Regions from separate parts of the Homo sapiens genome. Here region 1 is linked to region 2. The links come from fine-mapping of genetic effects on plasma protein levels. Region 2 holds a variant in brackets. A gene starts in the other region. All regions are shown on their reverse strands.

Evidence for each region. A credible set is the group of variants that fine-mapping cannot tell apart. PIP is the chance, under the fine-mapping model, that this variant and not a neighbour inherited with it causes the effect. The UK Biobank Pharma Proteomics Project read protein levels with antibody pairs (Olink). The fine-mapping took linkage between variants from a reference panel, not from the people measured, so its PIPs are less certain.
Region 1: PALM starts here. The variant in region 2 is the best candidate, but not a certain one, in a credible set for the plasma level of the PALM protein (UK Biobank, PIP 0.59).

Annotation. Positions count from the first base shown.
Region 1 is chr19:706,019-711,385 of GRCh38, reverse strand. PALM (paralemmin) reads right to left here and starts at 2,451. Exons shown (of 9, transcript NM_002579.3): 1 at 2,235-2,451. The coding sequence starts at 2,239. RefSeq lists a silencer at 3,205-3,441 and an enhancer at 2,894-3,454.
Region 2 is chr1:223,673,692-223,679,058 of GRCh38, reverse strand. It overlaps LOC105373281 (a long non-coding RNA gene), which reads left to right. Exons shown (of 3, transcript XR_949164.2): 3 at 977-1,241. Among named protein-coding and RNA genes, the nearest start is that of CAPN8, 11 kb to the right of the region's middle. The variant C/A (reference allele first, on the strand shown) is at 2,381.

The DNA.
Region 1 (5,367 bases), not on the chromosome of region 2:
GGTTTGAGCCTTGCCTGTACCCAGGACAGGGCTGTGGGTGCTGGAGAATGGCTGCTCCAGGCCAAAATATCTTTATTTTACCAGCCAGACCATGTGTCACGCAGGGGCCACACAAACCCTCCCAGAGCACAGAGATTCTCTCCGAAGCAGAGATTCTCCCCAGCTCCTTCCTGGACGTTCTCCTCACCTTGGCAGCATCGGCCCTGTGGTTAGCAACCCGCTAGTTCTCCTTAAATCCTCACATTAACAAAAAATAACCTGTTCTTGAATGACATTTAAAATTCTTTAAATTCTTAAATTCATTTGTGAAACTTTCCAGCGAGACGGGCACCACCACAAACCACAGCCAGCTCCCGTGTCTTCGACTGGAAAATCTGTGGAAACGGGAGGAGGCAAGCGATCACGTTCTAGCGGACGGGGCCTTCGTGCCTGAAGCCCGCCGGGGAGAAGAACGAGGGGGCAGGTGTCCAAGGCCGGGCGGCACCAGATGGGCCTGTCCCCACCCATTGTCAGCCCGGGAACCGGGGAGAGAGTCGTCCTCGAATGGCGGCTCACAGCAGCCGGTTAACACTGGGTGCCTGTCCCATGTCTGCATCCCCAAAAGCAATGATGACCCAATGGGGGACCTGTGGGCCACCCTCTGACCCAGGACGGAGAAACCGTGGAGCAGAGCAGGAGGCACCGAGGCCCCCCGGCCCCAGGTGCTGTGTGATGGAGGGGGGGTGGGGGGGGGGCAGCAGCTCCTCTCTGGGCCTCAGTATCCCCCGTGGGAAAGGAAGGGGTGGCAGGAAGGAAACAATGGGCCCGACCCGGAGTGTTCGCTGACACCCCTCCTCTGGGAGGGAGATCTCCGTCGTCCTCCTAGGCAGCCCCCTCCCCACAGCCACACCCTGCCCAGGCCTGGCTGTCAGAGGCCCAGAGGCTCCTCCGGGGCCTGGCGAGCAGGGCAGATAAACAAGGCTGGGGGGTGGGGGTGTGGAGCAGGCAAGTCTGGGCCCTGGCTCCCCTGAGCCCCTGGCTGAGCTCCCGGGGCGGGGTGACGGGGAGAGGGGTCAGGCCTTTGTCTGGGTTTTCAAAAGCAGAGGACACTGGGTGTCTCGCTTTCCCAGGGAGGGAGGGAGGCAGCGGCCCCCACCCAGCCGCGGGCGTGGCGGGTCACGGGTGAATCCCCGGGGAAAGTTGGCGGCTTAGAAAACACGCCCAGTGGGAAGGGCAGGGGGCCACAGGCGGCCTCCAGATCCGGTCTTCGGTCCTCGGGCTGGGGTGGGGACCCGGGCCTCAGCAGGGCAGCTGGCTCCCCTGTCCTGAAGTGGGCAGGTGGGTGACCCCAGGAGGAGCCTCCTGACCCCTGCCCGTGCAGTGCCCACCTGTGGGAGTGAGGGGCAGAGGGGCACCCGAGCACCGGGAGGAGGGGACCGGTGTCCGAAATGACCACGCGCCCTCGCTCGGTGCCTCCACTGGCCACCCCCCCCCCACACACACAGGCGCAGCCATGCGGGGGTCCAGGGATCCCAGCCCAGGGCCAGCCCACTCCTGTAGCTACACCAGTGGAGCCCCAGCTCCGAGACACTTCCCCGAGAGGGTATCCCACCCAGGCGCCCCGCTGGAAAACGCCGGTTCCTCTCCCTTCTCACACACCCCAGAGACCCGGGAAGCCGAGGGCAGCCCCTCTCCCTCCAGCGGTAACTCGGGACCTGCGCAGTGGCGGGGGGCTCAGGACACCCCTGGAGGCCCTTGGGAAGGGCGGGGGTGGGGGGCACCGGCCCGCGCGCGCGTCCAGGGCGCCAGGAGCCGTGCGCTCAGACTGGGGCGGGGGAAGGGTGCGTGAGCGCGAGGCCGGACCGGTGCAATCTGGGGAGGGGTCGCTCCATCTCCCCGGGGCCACCCACAGGTGGCCGAGAGCCGAGGCTCGCCCTGGAGACGCGGGCGGGGCGCGGGCGGAGACGCGAGCCTCCCCCTCCCCGCGTCCTGGACTGGCCCGAGCCGCCGCTGCCCGGGTCCCCACGCGCCGGTGGGTGGGCAGCCGGGGTCCGGGAGCGGGGAGGCCTCCCGGCAGGCGCGGCCCAGCCCGAGTCTCTTCCCGGCTGCGCTGCGGCCCCAGCAGCCCCGCGCCGCCTCCTGCTCCTCGCGGGGGCAGCGACGCCCCCAATGGGGCGCGAGAGAGGGGGCCTCCCCCCTCCCCGGCTCCCGGAGCTCCGGGCCCCCAGCCCCGCGGCCCGAGCGCGCCTACTCACTCCATCTCCCCGCCGAGGTCCGGGTGGGTCCGCGGTGCCGGGCGGGGGCGGGCGCGGGTGGCGCGCGGGGGAGGGGAGGGGAGGGGGACGCGGCCTGGCGGGGGCCGGGGCGGGCTAAGGCCTGGCGGCCGGGGCTGCGCGGCGCGGGGGCGGCGGCACCGGCTCGGGCATCGCCCCGCGCAAAGCTGCTGTTTATTGTCCGGGCGGCGGCGGGCGCGGGGGGTGGGCTGGGCGCGCGCGTCTCCGGCGCGCTCCCCTCTCCCTCCCGCCCGCCCCGCTCCCCGCCCCGCTCCCCTCCCACCTCCCCGCGCTGCGAGCGGGCGCTGCGCCTCCTGCCGGCTGCGCCGCCGCCGCCCCCCGCCCCGCGCGCCCCGCCCCGGGGCACCCCTGAGAAGGGCCTAGGTCTGGGCGCGGTGCTGGGACCCGGCTGTCACCAAGTCCCGCCCCTCCCCAGCTCCTGGGCCAGAGCCGGGACCCTCGCGAAGTCAGACAAGCAAAGGCCTTTCTCGAGAGCCCAGACGCCGAGAGGGACACACATTTCAGGGCGAGCGAGGGGATAGGGGGGTCCTGGGGAGGCCGCTGCGAGGAGCTGACAGCTCCCTGCACCCCCGGCCCCGCTCGCAGGGTCCCCAGGCCTCCTTTGCCGGAGTATCTGGTGGAGGGCGCTGTGCCTGCAAAGGCCGGGGGTTGGGGTGGAGACAACCGCAGGTGCTGATCTGTCTGTGCCCTGGCTGGGAGCTGAGCCTGGTCCCCGGGGCTGGAATTTAATCGGCCCCAGGGCCCCCATGGCACACTCACTAAAGGCCCAGCGACCAGACGACCAGAGTGAGTGAGAGGGACGGTGGAGAATCAGGGAGAGCTCAGGCTTTGTCCTCAGAGCACTGGGGAGCCACAGCAGGAGACAGGCAGGACCTGTCTTCCCCAACATGTAGGCCTTGGGCCCAGCTTCCTGGTTTCCCGTGAGAACACTGCAGACCAGCCCCAGCACACCTACTCATGGGGGTCCAGGGTGGGCAGGAAGGAAAGATTCTTCCAAACTTCTTAGTTTTCTTATAAAACGGTTCTCCTCTGCCGATGTTTGCTGAATGGCTGTAGATTTAAAGGAAAGTAGCCCCGGATGAGCTGTGGAGAAAGATACGGCAGGATGTACCCCAGGCTGAAGAAGGCCGTCAACACCTTTTCTTTATTCCTCCCTTTTTACAATGAATGTGTATTCATTTTAGCATTTAAGACAATAAGATAAATTAGCAAAGGTTAACAAAGCTAAGATCCTAAAGAATATCAGGGGTCCCGGGTCTGTCTGATTCCCAGCTCACCCATCTCCAAGCTGTGTGACCCTGGGTCTGTTTCTCAACCTCTCGGAGCCTTATTCCCCCCCACCCCCCTGCCCCCACCCTTAAGGCTGTGGGAGGGTTAACTGAGTGAGCACACACAAAGGGCTTGGCACAGGGCCCAGCACACACTAGCTCAGGGTTTGGCAAACTTTTTCTGTAAAGGGCCAGAGAGTAAATATTTTCAGCATTGCAGGCCACAGTCTCTGCGGCAATGACTCTGCTCTGCCATCGCAGAGTGAAAGTAGCCAGAGACAATATGTAAAACCATGGGCATGGCTCTGTGCCCATAAAACTTTATTTACAAAAACAGGCAGTGGGCCAGAGCTTATCCCAGGGCCGTAGTGTACTGACCCCTGCACTAGGCACCCAATAAAACTTTATTTACAAAAACAGGCAGAGGGCCAGAGCTGATCCGAGGGCCGTAGTGTACTGACCCCTGCACTAGGCACCCAATAAAACTGACCTGTGAGTCGTTTCTTCACTTCCCCTTGGCCTCTGTGTTCTTTTAGTCCAAAGTGATTTATTGAACACCTACTGTGTGCCTGGCACCGTTAGTCACCTGTGATGCAGAAGTTCCATTTTTGCGGCCAGGCGCCGTGGCTCACGCCTATAATCCCAGCACTTTGGGAGGCTGAGGCTGGTGGATCACGAGGTCAAAAGTTTGAGACCAGGCCGGGCGCGGTGGCTCACGCCTGTAATCCCAGCACTTTGGGAGGCTGAGGCTGGTGGATCATGAGGTCAAAAGTTAGAGACCAGCCTGGCCAACATGGCAAAACCACTTCTTTTTTTGGCTGGGGTGGACGGAGTTTCGCTCTTGTTGCCCAGGCTGGAGTGCAATGGCGCGATCTCGGCTCACTGCAACCTCCGTCTACCAGGTTCAAGCAATTCTCCTGCCTCAGCCTCCCTAGTAGCTGGGATTACAGGTGTGAGCCACCACGCTCGGCCAGTGAAACTCCTTCTCTACTAAAAATACAAAACTTAGCTGGGCATGGTGGTGCGCGCCTGTAATCCCAGCTACTGGGGAGGCTGAGGCAGGAGAATGGCTGGAACCCGGGAGGCAGAAGTTGCAGTGAGCAGAGATCGCGCCACTGCACTCCAGCCTGGGTGACAGAACAAGACTCCATCTCAACAAAACAAAACAAAACAAAACAAAAAAGAAGTTCTGTCCTTGGAGAGACGGTGATTTTTGTCCCCTACATAAATGATTCAGGGTGAATGAAGTGACTGTTACATGTAATCCCAACACTTCAGGAGACTGAAGCAGGAGGATCACTTGAATCCAGGAGGTGAAGACCCTGGGCTACCTAGTGAGACTTCCATTTCTACAAAAAATTAAAAATTGGGCCGGGCACAGTGACTCACGCCTGTAATCCCAGCACTTTGGGAGGCTGAGGTGGGCAGATCACCTGAGCTCTGGAGTTCGAGATCAGCCTGAGCAACATGGAGAAACCCCGTCTCTACTAAAAATACAAAATTAGGCGGGCGTGGTGGTGCATGCCTGTAATCCCAGCTACTCCAGAGGCTGAGGCAGGAGAATCACTTGAACCTGGAAGGCGGAGGTTGCAGTGGGCCGAGATCGCACAATTGCACTCCAGCCTGGGCAACAAGAGCGAAACTCCATCTCAAAAAAAATAAAAAATAAAAAATAAAAATTAGCTGGGCACGGTGGTGTGTGCCTGTGGTCCCAGTTACTTGGGAGGCTAAGGTGGGAGGATCGCATGAGCCTGGGAGGTTGAGGCTACAGTGAGCCGTGATCATGCCACTGCACTCCAGCCTGGGCAACAGAGCCAGAACCTGGC
Region 2 (5,367 bases):
CCTAAGGAGAGACTTACGTAATGAAGAACCGAGGCCTCCTGCCCATGGCCATGCGAGTGAGCCATCCTGATAGGAGATCCTCCCACCACAGCTGAGCCATCAGTTGACTATAGCTGCAGTCGGTGTCTCATGAAAGTCTTAGAGGTCAGAACCATACAGCTAAATTCCCAAATTCCCTATGCACCGAAATGGTAAGATAATAAATATATGCTGTTCTAGACCACTGAATTTGGGAAAATTTGTCATCTGCAAAAAATAAATAATATATGTGTTGATCTGTCTTACATTAAATTGATAGTCACTAACTCAACTGGCCCTTAATGCCACCTGGCAGCATCATGTCTCTTATCCAATTTTCAATATCACTTATTTTATTTTATTTAAAAATTTTTTTGAGACAGAGTTTCGCTCTTGTTGCCCAGGCTGGAGTTCAATGGTGTGATCTTGGCTCACTGCAACCTCCACCTCTCAGGTTCAAGTGATTCTCCTGCCTCAGCCCTCCAAGTAGCTGGGATTACAGGTATGCACTATCATGCCTGGCTAATTTTGTATTTTTAGTAGAGATGGGGTTTCACCATGTTGGTCAGGCTGGTCTCAAACTCTTGATCTCAGGTGATCCACCTGCCTTGGCCTCCCAAAGTCCTGAGATTACAGGCATGAGCCACCATGCCCGGCCAGATCACTTACTTTATACCTCCTCTCTCTCTCTCAAATCTCCAACACCTCTGCCCCATTCTCACTCTCAGCTAATGCCCTTCACTCCTATTTCCAAGAGAAAGGTCAAAGCACTGAAAACAGAACTTCCCAAGGTCCAACTGTGACATCTATCCTCACACTGTGTCTGCCATCTACCCTGTGACAAGGGATGAACTGTCTGTGTCCTAAGGCCAACCTCTCCCCTTGGGCTCTAGATTTGATTTCCTCTTGGCCACTCAAAAACATCCCTCCTGAAATTCATCCCCCTCTCTATTTCTAGGTGGAAAGAGCATCGACCTGAGTCCAATCAGCTACTTACAGGTCAACTAAGAAGAGGACTGAGAGTTAACCATTGGATTGAGCAACATCAAGACCACCTGGATATTGGCCAATGGTTTTACCCTGACCATCTGCCCAGAGGGATGGTAAGAGAGAAAGGCAGGACAGAAATGAAAGGACAGTGAGAATACACACCACTTTCATGAAATTTTGTTGTGAAAAGAAAGGAAGAGGCCCGGCATGGTGGCTCACATCTGTAATCCCAGCACTTTAGGAGGCCAAGGCGGGCGAATCACCTGAGGTCAGGAGTTCGAGACCAGCCTGGGCAACATGGCAAAACCCCGTCTCTACTAAAAATACAAAAGTTAGCCAGGCATGGTGGCATGGGCCTGTAATCCCAGCTACTCAGGAGGCTGAGGCGGGAGAATCGCTGGAACCCAGGGGGCAGAGGCTGCAGTGAGCCGAGATCGTGCCACTGCACTCCAGCCTGGGTGATAGAGCAAGACTCAAGGTAAAAAAAAAAAAAAAAGAAAGAAAAGAAGAAACAGGACAGGGGCATGGAGTCAAGAGAGATTAAACATTTTCTTTTTTTAAGGCAGGAGAAACTATAGCAAACTTGTATGGGAAAGAAAACGATCCAGTAGAGACAGAGAAAACTGATGCAGGTGCATCTGTGGCTGCTTGGCAGCAGGAACTGAGGTCAGGGAAGCATGTGATATAGTGACATGCCCAGCAAGAACAACCTCAAAGTACACTCGTAAGTCCCCATATTGCATGTGGAGCTCTGTGAAGGGTTGCACGATGAACTTGAGAGAGACACAGTTCCTACCTTCATGGCCTTGTTTTCTAAGACTAGGTCAGAGGACTCTCCACATTTATGCCCTCTCTTTTCTATTGTATTGTATTTTATTGTATTGTATTGTATTGTATTGTATTGTATTGTATTGTATTGTATTGTATTGTATTTATTTATTTATTTGAGACAGGGTCTCACTCTGTCACCTAGGCTGGAATGCAGTGCCTATTTATGGGCATGATCATAGCTCACTACAGTCTTGACCTCCTGGGCTCAAGCAATCCTCCCAACTCAGCTTCCCAAGTAGCTGGGACTACAGGTGTGTACCACCACACCCAGTGAATTTCTTATTTTTTGTAGAGACAGCAGTTTTGCCATGTTGCCATGGCTGGTCTTGAACTCCTGGGCTTGGCCTCCCAAAGTGCTGGGATTATAGGCATGAGCCACTGCACCCAGCCTGTCCCTTTTCTAGCTAGTAGTTTTCTTTCAGAGGAAATCAAAATATCTCCCTATTTACGCTAAATATGAGTCCTGAACTGTTACAGCTTCTGGGGTAGATGAGGTTAGGGTCTCTGTCAAATGCCAGCATTCAGAGGCATATAAGAAGCA[C/A]TCACTGTTTTCCTCTATTCACAACACATTTCGCTTCTGACACCAGATGTGTGGGTTTTTCCCCCACACTGAACAATTTTCCAACACCAGCTGGGTGTCCTACAATTTAACTCAATTCTGACACTAATTGCCTGGAGTTAGAACAAGTTAATGGCTCAGTCCTACAAGACCATCCCCACTTCAGAGCCCAATCATAAGTGGTGGGTCCCCAGGTCACCCACAACTTCTGTCTGACTTGGTTACAAATTGGAGGTTCCCACGACCTCCTCCTCATGTTCACTAATTTGCTAGAATAGTTCACAGAAAGCAAAGAGAAAAGTTACTAAGTTATGGGTTTATCATAAAACGATGCAATTCAGGAACAGCCAGATGGGAGAGATGCACAGGGCAATGACATGTCTTGGCTGTGTCCCTACTCAAATCTCATCTTGAATTGTGACTCCCACAATTCCCACATGTTGTGGGAGGTAACTGAATCATAAGGGTGGGTCTTTCCCATGCTATCCTCTTAATAGTGAATAAGTCTCATGAGATCTGATGGTTTTATAAGGAGGAGTTCCCCTGCACATGTCCTATTCTTGCCTGCCACCATGTAAGATGTTCCTTGCTCTTCTGCCATGATTGTGAGGCCTCCCCAGCCATGTAGAACTATGAGTCCATTAAACCTCTTTCCTTTACAAATTATGCAGTCTCAGATATGCCTTTATTAGCAGCATGAGAACAGACAAATACAGGCAAGGTATGGGGAAAGGGGTGCAGAACTTCCATGCCTTCTCTGGGCACACCACCCTCCCAGCACCTCCATGAGTTCAGCAGCCTGGAAGCTCTCTGAATTCTGTAGCTCAGGGATTTTTTTTTTTTTTTTAGCTGTGACCTTGCCTTTCTCTCTCTTTCTCTCTCTCTCTCTCTCTCTTTCTCTCTCTCTCTCTCTCTCTGTGTGTGTGTGTGTGTGTGTGTGTGTGTGTAGATTTCTTTCTTTATTATTATTTTTTAAACTTTTATTTTAGGTTCAGGGGTATATGTGCAAGTGCTGCGGTTTGGAGTTGTGTCCCCACCCAAATCTCATGTTGAACTGGAATTGCCAGTGTTGGAGGAGGGGCCTGGTGGGAGGTGACTGGATCATAGGAACAGTTTAATGGTTTAGCACCATCCCTCTAGTGCTGTTTTAAAAGTGTGTGGCACCCCTCCTTCCTCTTGCTCCCACTATGTAAGATGTGCTTGCTTCCCCTTTGCCTTCTGCTGTGATTGTAAGTTTCCTGAGGCCTTGACAGAAGCAGAAGCCTATACAGCCTACAGAACTGTGAGACAATGAAACATCCTTTCTTTATACATTACCCAGTTTCAGGTACTTCTTTATAGCAGTGTGAGAATGGACTAATAAAAAAAATTGGTACCAGAGAAGTGGAGCATTGCTATAAAGGTACTTGAAAATGTGGAAATGACTTTGAAACTGGGTAATAGGCAGAGGTTGGAAGAGTTTGGAGGGCTCAGAAGAAGACAGGAAAATGAGGGAAAGTTTGGAGCTTCCTAGAAACTTGTTGAATTGTTGTGGCCAAAATGCTGATAGTGATATGGACAATGAAGTCCAGGCTGAGGAAGTCTCAGATGGAGACCTCTCAGATGGAGCTTATTGGAAACTGGGGTAAGGTTACTCTTCCTATGTGTTAGCAAAGAGACTGGCAGCATTATGCCCCTGCTCTAGACATTTGTGGAACTTGAACTTGAGAGAGATGATTTAGGGTATCTTGAGGGAGAAATTTCTAAGCAGCAAAACATTCAAGATGTGACTTGGCTGCTTGTAAGAACCTACAGTCACATGCATAAGGAAATAAATGATCTAAAACTAGAACTTTTATTTAAAAGGGAAGCAGAGCATAAAAGTTTGGAAAATTTGCAGCCTGGCCATGTGGTAGAGAAAAAAAAAATTTCAGAAGAGGAATTCAAACCAGCTGCAGAAATTTGCGTAAGTAAAGAGGAACTGAATGTTAATAGCTGAGACAATGGGGAAAATGCCTGGAAGGCATTTCAGCAAACTTCATGGCAGCCTCTCCCTTCACAGGCCCAGAGGCCTAGGATAGAAGAATGGTTTTGTGGTCTGGACCCAGAGCCCCACTGCCCTGCACAACCTCGGGACAGTGCTCCCTGTGTCCTGGCGGCTCAAGCTCCAGATATGCCTCAGGCAGCTGCTCCAGAGGGTGCAAGCTGCAAGTATTGGTGGCCTCCACATGGCATTAAGCCTGTGGGTGTGCAGAGGACAAGAGTTAAGGCTTGGGAGTCTCTGCCTAGATTTCAGAAGATGTATGGAAATGGCCGAATGTCTAGGCAGAAGTCTGCTGCAGGAGTGGAGCCCTCATGGAGAACCTCTACTAGGGTAGTGCAGAAGGGAAATGTGGGGTTGAAACCCCCATGCAGAGTTTCCAGTGGGGCACTGCCTAGTGGGGCTGTGAGACGAAGACCACCATCCTCCAGACCCCAGAATGGTAGATCCACCAACAGCTTGCACTGTGCACCTGGAAAAGCCACAGGCACTCAACACCCTTGAGAACAGCCATGGGAGCTGAGCCCTGCAGAGCCACAGGGACAGAACTGCCCAAGGCCTTGGGAGCCCAGCCCTTTCACCAGTGTGGTCTGGATGTGAGACACAGAGTCAAAGGAGATTATTTCAGAGCTTTAAGATTTAATGACTGCCCTGCTGGGTTTTGGACCTGCATAGGGCCTATAGCTCCTTTGCTTTGGCCAATTTTTCCCTTCTGGAAAGGGAGTAATTATCCAATGCCTATACCCCTATTGTATTTTGGAAGTAACTAACTTGTTTTTGATTTTACAGGCTCATGGGTGGAAGGGACTTGTCTTGTCTCAGATGAGACTTTGGACTGGACTTTCGAGTTAATGCTGAAATGAGTTAAAACTTGGGGGACTGTTGAGATGGGATAATTGTATTTTGCAATGTGAGAAGGACACAAAGTTTGGGATAGGCCAGGGACAGA